Linked DNA regions of Homo sapiens: regions 2 and 3 are each linked to region 1. Evidence: fine-mapped expression QTL. A gene starts in region 1. Each other region holds a variant in brackets. All regions are shown on one strand. Distances are from middle to middle. Region 1 holds the start of HSF1 (heat shock transcription factor 1). Region 2 holds the start of EPPK1 (epiplakin 1). Region 3 overlaps HSF1 (heat shock transcription factor 1).

Region 1 (2,747 bases):
GGACCACAGCTGCCTCTGAGCAGAGCCCTGCTGGCTGCGTGACACCGGCACACACAGTGTTCGGGTCCTTCACTGGCCTTAAAGGGTGGAACAAGAACTTAGACTCTTAGGAAGCAGTTGAAGGCCAGGCACAGTGGCTCACTCCTGTAATCCCAACACTTTGGGAGGCTGAGGCGGGTGGATCACCTGAGGTCAGGAGTTCAAGACCAGCCTGGCCAACATGGTGAAACCATCTCTACTAAAAATACAAAAATTAGCTGGTGGTGGCGGGCACCTCTAATCCCAGCTACTCAGGAGGCTGAGTTAGCCAGGAGGTGGAAGCTGCAGTGAGCCAAGACTGCACCACTGCACTCTAGCCTGGGCAACAGAGCCAGGCTCTGTCTCAAAAAAAAAAAAAAGAAAAAAGAAAGAAAAGGAAAAGAAAAGAAAAAGGAAGCAGTTGAATGCAGAATTCTAGATTTTACTGTTTTCCTAATAGTTTACAAGTCTCACTTAAGGTACGACCTGCATGTATTAGCTATTGCATACCGAGTGTTCACACAATGCCTCTCTCACACAGAGTCATGATGTGTCTTGGTATTCAGTCGGCTACACAATCACAATAACTAGTGGAAATGGCATCCGTGGCCTGGGCGCAAACAACTGGCTCCTGAGGACCGTTTAGTCCAAGGGTGGAAGTCGCAGAACCTGGCGCCTAGAGTGGCCTGCGGGCCATTCAGCCCATGGGAGCCAGGATGAGTTGAATTCGCTTCACAAAGCAATGGGGCAGTTTCAACAACCCAGCGCGGCCGCGGCCGAGGGGGCTGTGAGGGGCTGGCTGTCCATCCCCTCCACCACCCAATTTGATGATCCCCACAACCAAGACAGGGCTGAGCTAGCAGAGAGCAACAGTGAGTTCTAATACAGCAAATGCAGCAGACACTGGGTTCTATTCAGGTTTTCTTATTCTCATGTCTATCCCATGAGCATAAAAACGCAATTAACTAGCGTATACGTAGGTTAAGCATTTACTGGGAGCGCAAGCCGAGCCCTTTTATTGGCAGGATGCACAAATGGAACGGCTGGAGAGGCTGCTGCAAGGGGCGCCCCGTCCCCACTCCCCGCTCCCCCGTTTCTTTGCTTCCCGGACGCCGTCCTTTACCCCGCAGTCCGCTCTGCCTGAGACCCCCCGATAGAGGAGCTGCACCCACGCCCAAGACCGATTCACTGGGCGCGGGCGCCCAGGTGACAGAAGCCGGGCCCACCCGCCCCAGCGCGGCCACGTGCCCGCCGGGCCCTCTAGGGACGCGCCCCGCCGCCCCGCATCGCCACAGTCACCTCCGGCTCGGGCTCAGGCTCCAGTTCGGGCTCAGACCGCCGCTTCTCCGGCCGCACGCTCGGCGCCGCCGTGCGCCCCGCACCCCGCGAACCCGCCATGCCCCACCGCGCGCCGGCCGCCACCCGCACAGCCGCTTCCGACAGCGACCGGGCCGCGTGCGCAGGAGGACGCGCCCCGCCCAGCCCGGCCCCGATTGGCGGGTGGAGGGAAGGGGGTGGGACCAACACGCGCAGGCGCGCGGCTGGGCCGGGGACCAGGGCGGGGTCGGGGCCTGCGTGCTCGCGCCGGGGGTGACGCGGGAGGGCGGCAGCGGCGGCGGCGGGAGCGCGCCCGTTGCAAGATGGCGGCGGCCATGCTGGGCCCCGGGGCTGTGTGTGCGCAGCGGGCGGCGGCGCGGCCCGGAAGGCTGGCGCGGCGACGGCGTTAGCCCGGCCCTCGGCCCCTCTTTGCGGCCGCTCCCTCCGCCTATTCCCTCCTTGCTCGAGATGGATCTGCCCGTGGGCCCCGGCGCGGCGGGGCCCAGCAACGTCCCGGCCTTCCTGACCAAGCTGTGGACCCTCGTGAGCGACCCGGACACCGACGCGCTCATCTGCTGGAGCCCGGTGAGGGCAGCGCGCGGGCGCGGGGCCCGTGGGGACCGGGAGGGAGCAGGGCCGCGGCGGACGGCGCGGGAGGGCTGCGGGGAGGGGCCCTGCCGCACTTCAGCTTACGCGCGGTGAGCCTGCCCTGCCCCCGCCAGAGAAGGGCGGCGGGTCCCGAGCCTGCTCAGACCCAGAGCCTTAAGTTGGGAAAGCGGCTACGAGACCCACACTCGGTTCAACCCCTGCCCCAGCGAAGTTTCCCTGGGATGGGGAGAATGGGGCGTCTCTTGTATTGGGCTTCTGCTAACTGTTGGGCGGTTGCGGAAGTGTCCGCGCTTAGGGCAAGCACCCGGCTTCGCCAGCGGACGCTATGCCCCAGAGGACATCGGCGTCCCCAGGGGACAGCCTACGGGGTGCTGGGTCGGCAACTATTAGGAGAAAGTCAGGACTTGGCACGTGAAGTGGAGGGCGTTGCTGTAGTGGAACAGGAAAGGCAGTGGAAACAGTAAGACGTCATGAAGCTTCAGGTTGATCTCAAGCCCGTTTCCGAATCCCAAATCTGGGTTTCCCAAGAGGAGTTTTGTTTTTCATTCCTTATGGGGCATCTTTATTCGTGTTTCTGTCTTCAGTTGCCTGGCAGCAGGCTTGTTTACATGGTCCGACCCTGCAAGACCGGACAGCTCCGGTTTGCAGAAGTAAATCAGTGATTGTCTGGAGTTGGAGATCAGAATCTGCTGTTCACATCCCGGCTGTGACGTCGTGTCCGGTGAGGGGCAGAGCCACCGCCTGCGGCTGGCAAGTGATGACCTGAAGAAGGGCCACACTGGCCGAGTGGGGTGACTCTTGCT
Region 2 (2,713 bases), 410 kb before region 1:
CGAGCCCGCACCCGCACCCGCCGCACCTGCCCGCACCCGCCGCACCTGCCCGCACCCGCCGCACCCGCCGCACCCGCCGCACCCGCCGCACCTGCCCGCTCGCCGCTCGGTCCGCAGTGTCTCCGCGCGCCCGCTCCGCCCGCATTTCAAGCCCCACAGGCCCCGCCCCCGTCTAGGGCGGCGCCCAGGTCGGGGCCCCGACGCGGGGCGGGGCGGGGCGGGCAGGTGCCGGAAACCCCGCGCGGCCCGGGCCTGGCGCTTGCACCCCGGGCAAGGGGCGGCGGCTGGGCAGCCGGGACCCTCCCCTCGTCCCCAGCAGGGAGTCACCGCGAAGGAACGCAGGGCGGGCGCGGAGGCGTCCTGTGCCCTTCAGAACAGCTTTTTTTTTTTGGGAAAGGAGTTTGGAGTGAAACGCGGACCGGCCAGAGCGGCGGTTTCTATCCCCACAAGCCACTAATGCGGTGCGGGCTGGTGTCCCTGCCTCCAGCCCCGACCCCACCTTGTCTGCTCAGCTTCCTGGGGACGCTGCTTCACGTCGTGTGTCTGCTGGGTCCAGGGGTCTTCAAGGCTCTCCTTGGCAGGCCCCCCTGCCCCCATGACGTTGTAAGAGCTGGGATGTCCTGCCTGGAGCAGTGCCAGGCCTCACCCCCCGGTCTGGCTCCTCCACCTGGGCACAGAGAATGTTCCCTGTCACCCTGGGAGTACCTGGTCCCCTCTCTGAAGCCCATCCTGGCACCCACCTTCCAAGGCTGGGGCATGCCAGAGACACTGGGCATGGAGGCTCACAGCCTCGGGGGCTGGCCTGGGGGCAGCCTCAGCCTGGCACGGGAACCTTCCATGGATCTTCTGGAGGGCCCTCCCCTTGGCTGCCCCGATATCCCAGGTGGGCAGGGCCACGGAAGTACAGGGCCCAAAGCCCCTCCTCCTCTGTCCCCAAGGCCCCTCCTCCTCTGTCCCGTAGTCCTGGAGGTCCTGAGGGCTCAGGTGCTCCCCACCCCCACAAGTGCCCCCTTCTCCCAAGCTCCAGCCCCCACCTCTGCCTGAGTCATTCTTGACCAGAAAATCATCCAGAGCCAGCCAGCCACCTCCAATGCACACCATGAGGGTAATTGCAGGCGCCCACGCAGGTGCAGGAGGGACAGGTTAGGCCTTCAGGGGTTAGGGTGCTTGGGACCACTGCCCTGGCTCTGCTCTCACCCACCCACCAGGTCCACACTCACACCTGCTCACCCAGGCTGCCTGGACCCTGTCCACACCTGCCACACTGGCCGCACAGCATGGCTGCTGCCGACTGCGGGGCCCTGACCCCAGAGGAGCTCTGGTGGAACCCGCATTTCCCCAAGGCACTGCCAGGCCAACCGCATCCATCCCCAGCCCTGCTCACCGGATGCCTGGACACTGTCTGTGTGGTCTTGCTGGGAGGCATGGTGGTGCTGGCTATGGCCTGTGGCCTGGAGCACACCCCAGAGCCACTTCTTCCTGCGGTGAGCCATTGCAGGCAGC[G/A]CCCCTGCCAGGCCACAAAACCTGGGTGTATGCCAGCCCCTCGCTGCAAGAAGGGGGTGTTAGGCTGGCCAGACCAAGCCTTCTTGTGTGCCCAGGGACGGGCCACATGCCTGTCTGCTCCTCACCCCTCCGGTATAGGCAGGTGGCACAGAGCTGGCCCTGCTCCGCTGCACCCATTTCTGCCCGTCACCCCTCCAGTATAGGCAGGTGGCACGGAGCTGGCCCTGCTCCGCTGCACCCATTTCTGCCCGTCACCCCCCTGGTATAGGCAGGTGGCATGGAGCTGGCCCTGCTCTGCTGCACCCACTGGCATCTGTCCCCTGGCTCCTCTCCCTCGGCTTTGTCTTCCTGTGACTCCAGATCCCCTGCCCTGTGGTGGCCCCCAGCCCAGTGACCTCTGGGGACACCTCTGGGGGCAGACTTGGGTGCCTGCCCTACTCCCCAGGTCCCTGGGCCACTCCCAGTCAGGGCTTCTGGGAGCCACCACCTCCCCAGGGGCTCCAGTCCAGTGCTTCAGCCCAGCAGTCCCCGGAGCCACAGGCCACTCCTCCAGCCCCCAGGCCTGGGCCTATACCACCTACACAGCAAGGAAGGGCATCAGGGAGGGTGTCAGGAGGTGAGCGAGAGGGCTCCCATGCCCAGTACTGCCCACGGCTCTACCCACCTCCTCCTGGCACTGGCACCTAGCTTCCCCCTGCAGGTCAGGGAGGCTCTCAGAAGACCTGGTCCAAGGAGGGAGGTCCCAGAGCCCCAAGACCAGTGCCCACGCTGCCCCTGGGCTGCTCCATGGAGTCACCGTGCTGGTTGGAGCCTTTGGCCAGGATCCCCATTGGTCCCTTGGAGCCTGGCATGGCCCAGCTCGAAGGGGAGTGCCCGCCATTGCTCCATAAAGCATCTGGGAGCAGGGTGTCCCCTCCACGGCACATGGCCCAGAGAGGAGACAGGGCAGATGCAGGCAGGATGGAGGGCCCGGCGGGAGCGGGTGGGACAGAGCTGAGCAGCAGGCTGACCTCTCCACCAAGGGCCTGGACATAGCAGCCGGCAGCTCCAACCGCAGGCCCAGGTACAGGGGGCGGGCAGCCTTGGGGGTGAGCCTTCCTCTCAGGCTGGGTGCCCTCACAGCAAAGACATGGGCTGCTCTCCCAGTGGCTCTCAGGGGACACCTGCCATCAGGGGAGCCCAGTGATGCAGCTGCCTCCGGGGGCAGGGA
Region 3 (2,747 bases), 21 kb after region 1:
GCCAGTGTCGCAGCCTGAAGAACCGTCCTCCCTTAACCTGGCTGCTCAGGCCTTGGAAGGGCGGCCCAAGGGTCTGCTCCTGGCCTGTGTCCAAGGCAGCCCTCCAGGTGTTTGCCAGGATGGATGCCAGGATCCGGGTGCACCTGGCTCGCATGGATCCATCCCCAACACCCTACGTGACACCAGGTGTCCCCGGCAGGGAGGGGCAGTGGGACCAGCAAGCCCTGGCCCTGGCCCCCAGTCCCTCCACACACAAGTTCTCATCCTGGGGTGGGCCAGGCCAGACATGGTCACACTTACCCCTGCTCCTGCATGGGGGACAGGGAGGGTCTGTGGGGCTCCCTCAGCCCTGGGGCTCATGGGATTGGGCCCCACTGACCCAGCCTGGTCTGTTGCAGTGAGAATGAGGCTCTGTGGCGGGAGGTGGCCAGCCTTCGGCAGAAGCATGCCCAGCAACAGAAAGTCGTCAACAAGGTGGGGGCAGGGCCAGAGGGCCGGCGGGGGCCCCACAAGGGCCGGGGTAACTGTGTCCTCTCTCTCCACAGCTCATTCAGTTCCTGATCTCACTGGTGCAGTCAAACCGGATCCTGGGGGTGAAGAGAAAGATGTGAGGTTTTGGGGATGCCTGCATCCACCACCCGGGGCCCAGGGCTGTCCCCCTTCTCTGTCAGCTGTGCCCCGGGTACCCCGAGGTGGGGGGTGGTGGCTGACCTGCACCCTTCCCCACAGCCCCCTGATGCTGAACGACAGTGGCTCAGCACATTCCATGCCCAAGTATAGCCGGCAGTTCTCCCTGGAGCACGTCCACGGCTCGGGCCCCTACTCGGTGAGTGCCGGAGACAGGGCACCCGCCCAGGCATGCAGGCGGCAGTGGGGTGGGTTGCCCCTGCCGGCACTGCATGGACCTCCTGCCTTTGATTGCAGGCCCCCTCCCCAGCCTACAGCAGCTCCAGCCTCTACGCCCCTGATGCTGTGGCCAGCTCTGGACCCATCATCTCCGACATCACCGAGCTGGCTCCTGCCAGCCCCATGGCCTCCCCCGGCGGGAGCATAGACGAGAGGTGGGGGCCGCATCACCCCAGCCATCCTGTCCCCCAATGAGGCGAGCCCCTGTGGGCCCAGGGCAGAGTTGGGGATGAGGTGGGGCTGGCCGAGACGCCAGCTCACCTGGCCCCCCTCGTGTGCAGGCCCCTATCCAGCAGCCCCCTGGTGCGTGTCAAGGAGGAGCCCCCCAGCCCGCCTCAGAGCCCCCGGGTAGAGGAGGCGAGTCCCGGGCGCCCATCTTCCGTGGACACCCTCTTGTCCCCGACCGCCCTCATTGACTCCATCCTGCGGGAGAGTGAACCTGCCCCCGCCTCCGTCACAGCCCTCACGGACGCCAGGGGCCACACGGACACCGAGGGCCGGCCTCCCTCCCCC[C/A]CGCCCACCTCCACCCCTGAAAAGTGCCTCAGCGTAGCCTGCCTGGACAAGTGAGTGCCGCCCACCCCTGGCCCCACCCACAGCGCCTGGACGCACAGCCCTGGGCTTCAGCCCCGACTGTCCCAGTGGACTGAGCAGGGCAGCTGGCGAGGCAGGACCCTACCCCCAACCTCGGAGCTCGGGGCTGGGGAGGGAGACAGGTGCCAGCCAGATCACCCCACAGTCCCAAACGCCACAGAAGCCACGGGCATGTCCGGACAGGCTGCCGGGCCCTGCTCTCAGCCACCCGTCCTGCTGCCGCCACCCTCGCCACAGGCCACGGGCCCTGGCAGGTCGTGCTGCCCAGACACATGGCAGGAGATGGTGAGCAGGGCCGGCCTCCACACCCCCAGCCCCTGCCTGCAATGGGGGCTCTTGTTTTTGTATCTTGCAGTTTGGCTCGCACTCCACAGATGTCTAGGGTCGCCCGCCTCTTCCCCTGCCCCTCTTCCTCTCCGCATGGCCAAGTCCAGCCAGGGTTAGCGCTGACCCCACTGGGGAGGGAGGAGGGCTCTGCCAGCGCTCGGGCCCTCCCACACAGCCGTGGACCAGACCCAGCCTGGCCGGGCATGAGCGTCGGGCCTGGGCGGCAGCAGCCGAGACCCCTCTGTGGCGGGGGCTCAGTGTCGTCATGGCTCCCCTGGCCACGGGCCTGTGGTCATTGCCTGTGACAGGGATGACAGGGACAGGCCTCCCTGCTCTGGCACGGCCTCTGGTGTTGGCAGGATCCAGACTGCGGTGCTGACTGCACTTCCTGTCAGGCAGGGTCTCCAGGGCACCTCTGGGACCCAGCCTGGCTGTCCGTCCCATAGCCCAGGTGTGCCCTGTGGCCTAGGGCTTTCTTGGTCACAGCCACCAGACCGTGGGTCTCATCCCCACAGCAGCACCAGGGCAGGGACTGAGCCACCCACACACTGAGCAGAGCCCCACCTGTTTTCCCAGTGCAACGGGAAACCTCACCAACCCTGAACACTGAAATCCCTGATCCTTGTGCTGGAGCTGAATACGCCCCTTGTCTCCTGGGTCCACTGCCACCAAGGCCCCCAGGCCCTCATGGCAAAGGGATGCCCAGCATAGGCCCAGCCGCACCCCTGCAGGGCACAGAGCCTCCACTGCCTTCCAGGCCGTCCTCGAATGCGCTGCCCCCTCCAGCCTGTGCAGGCGTACACGGGGGTGCAGCCTGGGGGGTACAGTCAAGGGGAGCCCTTCTCCCACAGGAGGGCATTGGGGTGTGGGGCCTGGGGCACTGGTTCAGGTACCGCCTTATCCCGGGCCAGGAATGAGCTCAG

Evidence for each region.
Region 2: its variant is fine-mapped to the expression of HSF1 in CD4 T cells (BLUEPRINT, PIP 0.95).
Region 3: its variant is fine-mapped to the expression of HSF1 in whole blood (TOPMed, PIP above 0.99). The same link has a PIP of 0.9 or more in T cells, esophagus mucosa, fibroblasts and unexposed skin.

The regions. Positions count from the first base shown.
Region 1 is chr8:144,289,955-144,292,701 of GRCh38, forward strand. It overlaps HSF1 (heat shock transcription factor 1), which reads left to right and starts at 1,650. Exons shown (of 13, transcript NM_005526.4): 1 at 1,650-1,920. The coding sequence starts at 1,804. BOP1 (BOP1 ribosomal biogenesis factor) reads right to left here and starts at 1,484. Exons shown (of 16, transcript NM_015201.5): 1 at 1,318-1,484. The coding sequence starts at 1,416. RefSeq lists silencers at 1,228-1,727, 1,838-1,997 and enhancers at 2,129-2,747, 2,388-2,447.
Region 2 is chr8:143,878,347-143,881,059 of GRCh38, forward strand. It overlaps EPPK1 (epiplakin 1), which reads right to left and starts at 121. Exons shown (of 2, transcript NM_031308.4): 1 at 92-121. RefSeq lists a silencer at 175-264 and an enhancer at 831-1,473. The variant G/A (reference allele first, on the strand shown) is at 1,504.
Region 3 is chr8:144,310,776-144,313,522 of GRCh38, forward strand. HSF1 (heat shock transcription factor 1) reads left to right here. Exons shown (of 13, transcript NM_005526.4): 5 at 399-474; 6 at 546-607; 7 at 730-826; 8 at 925-1,061; 9 at 1,188-1,469; 10 at 2,736-2,747. Among named protein-coding and RNA genes, the nearest start is that of MIR6848, 5.2 kb to the right of the region's middle. RefSeq lists an enhancer at 2,010-2,541. The variant C/A (reference allele first, on the strand shown) is at 1,420.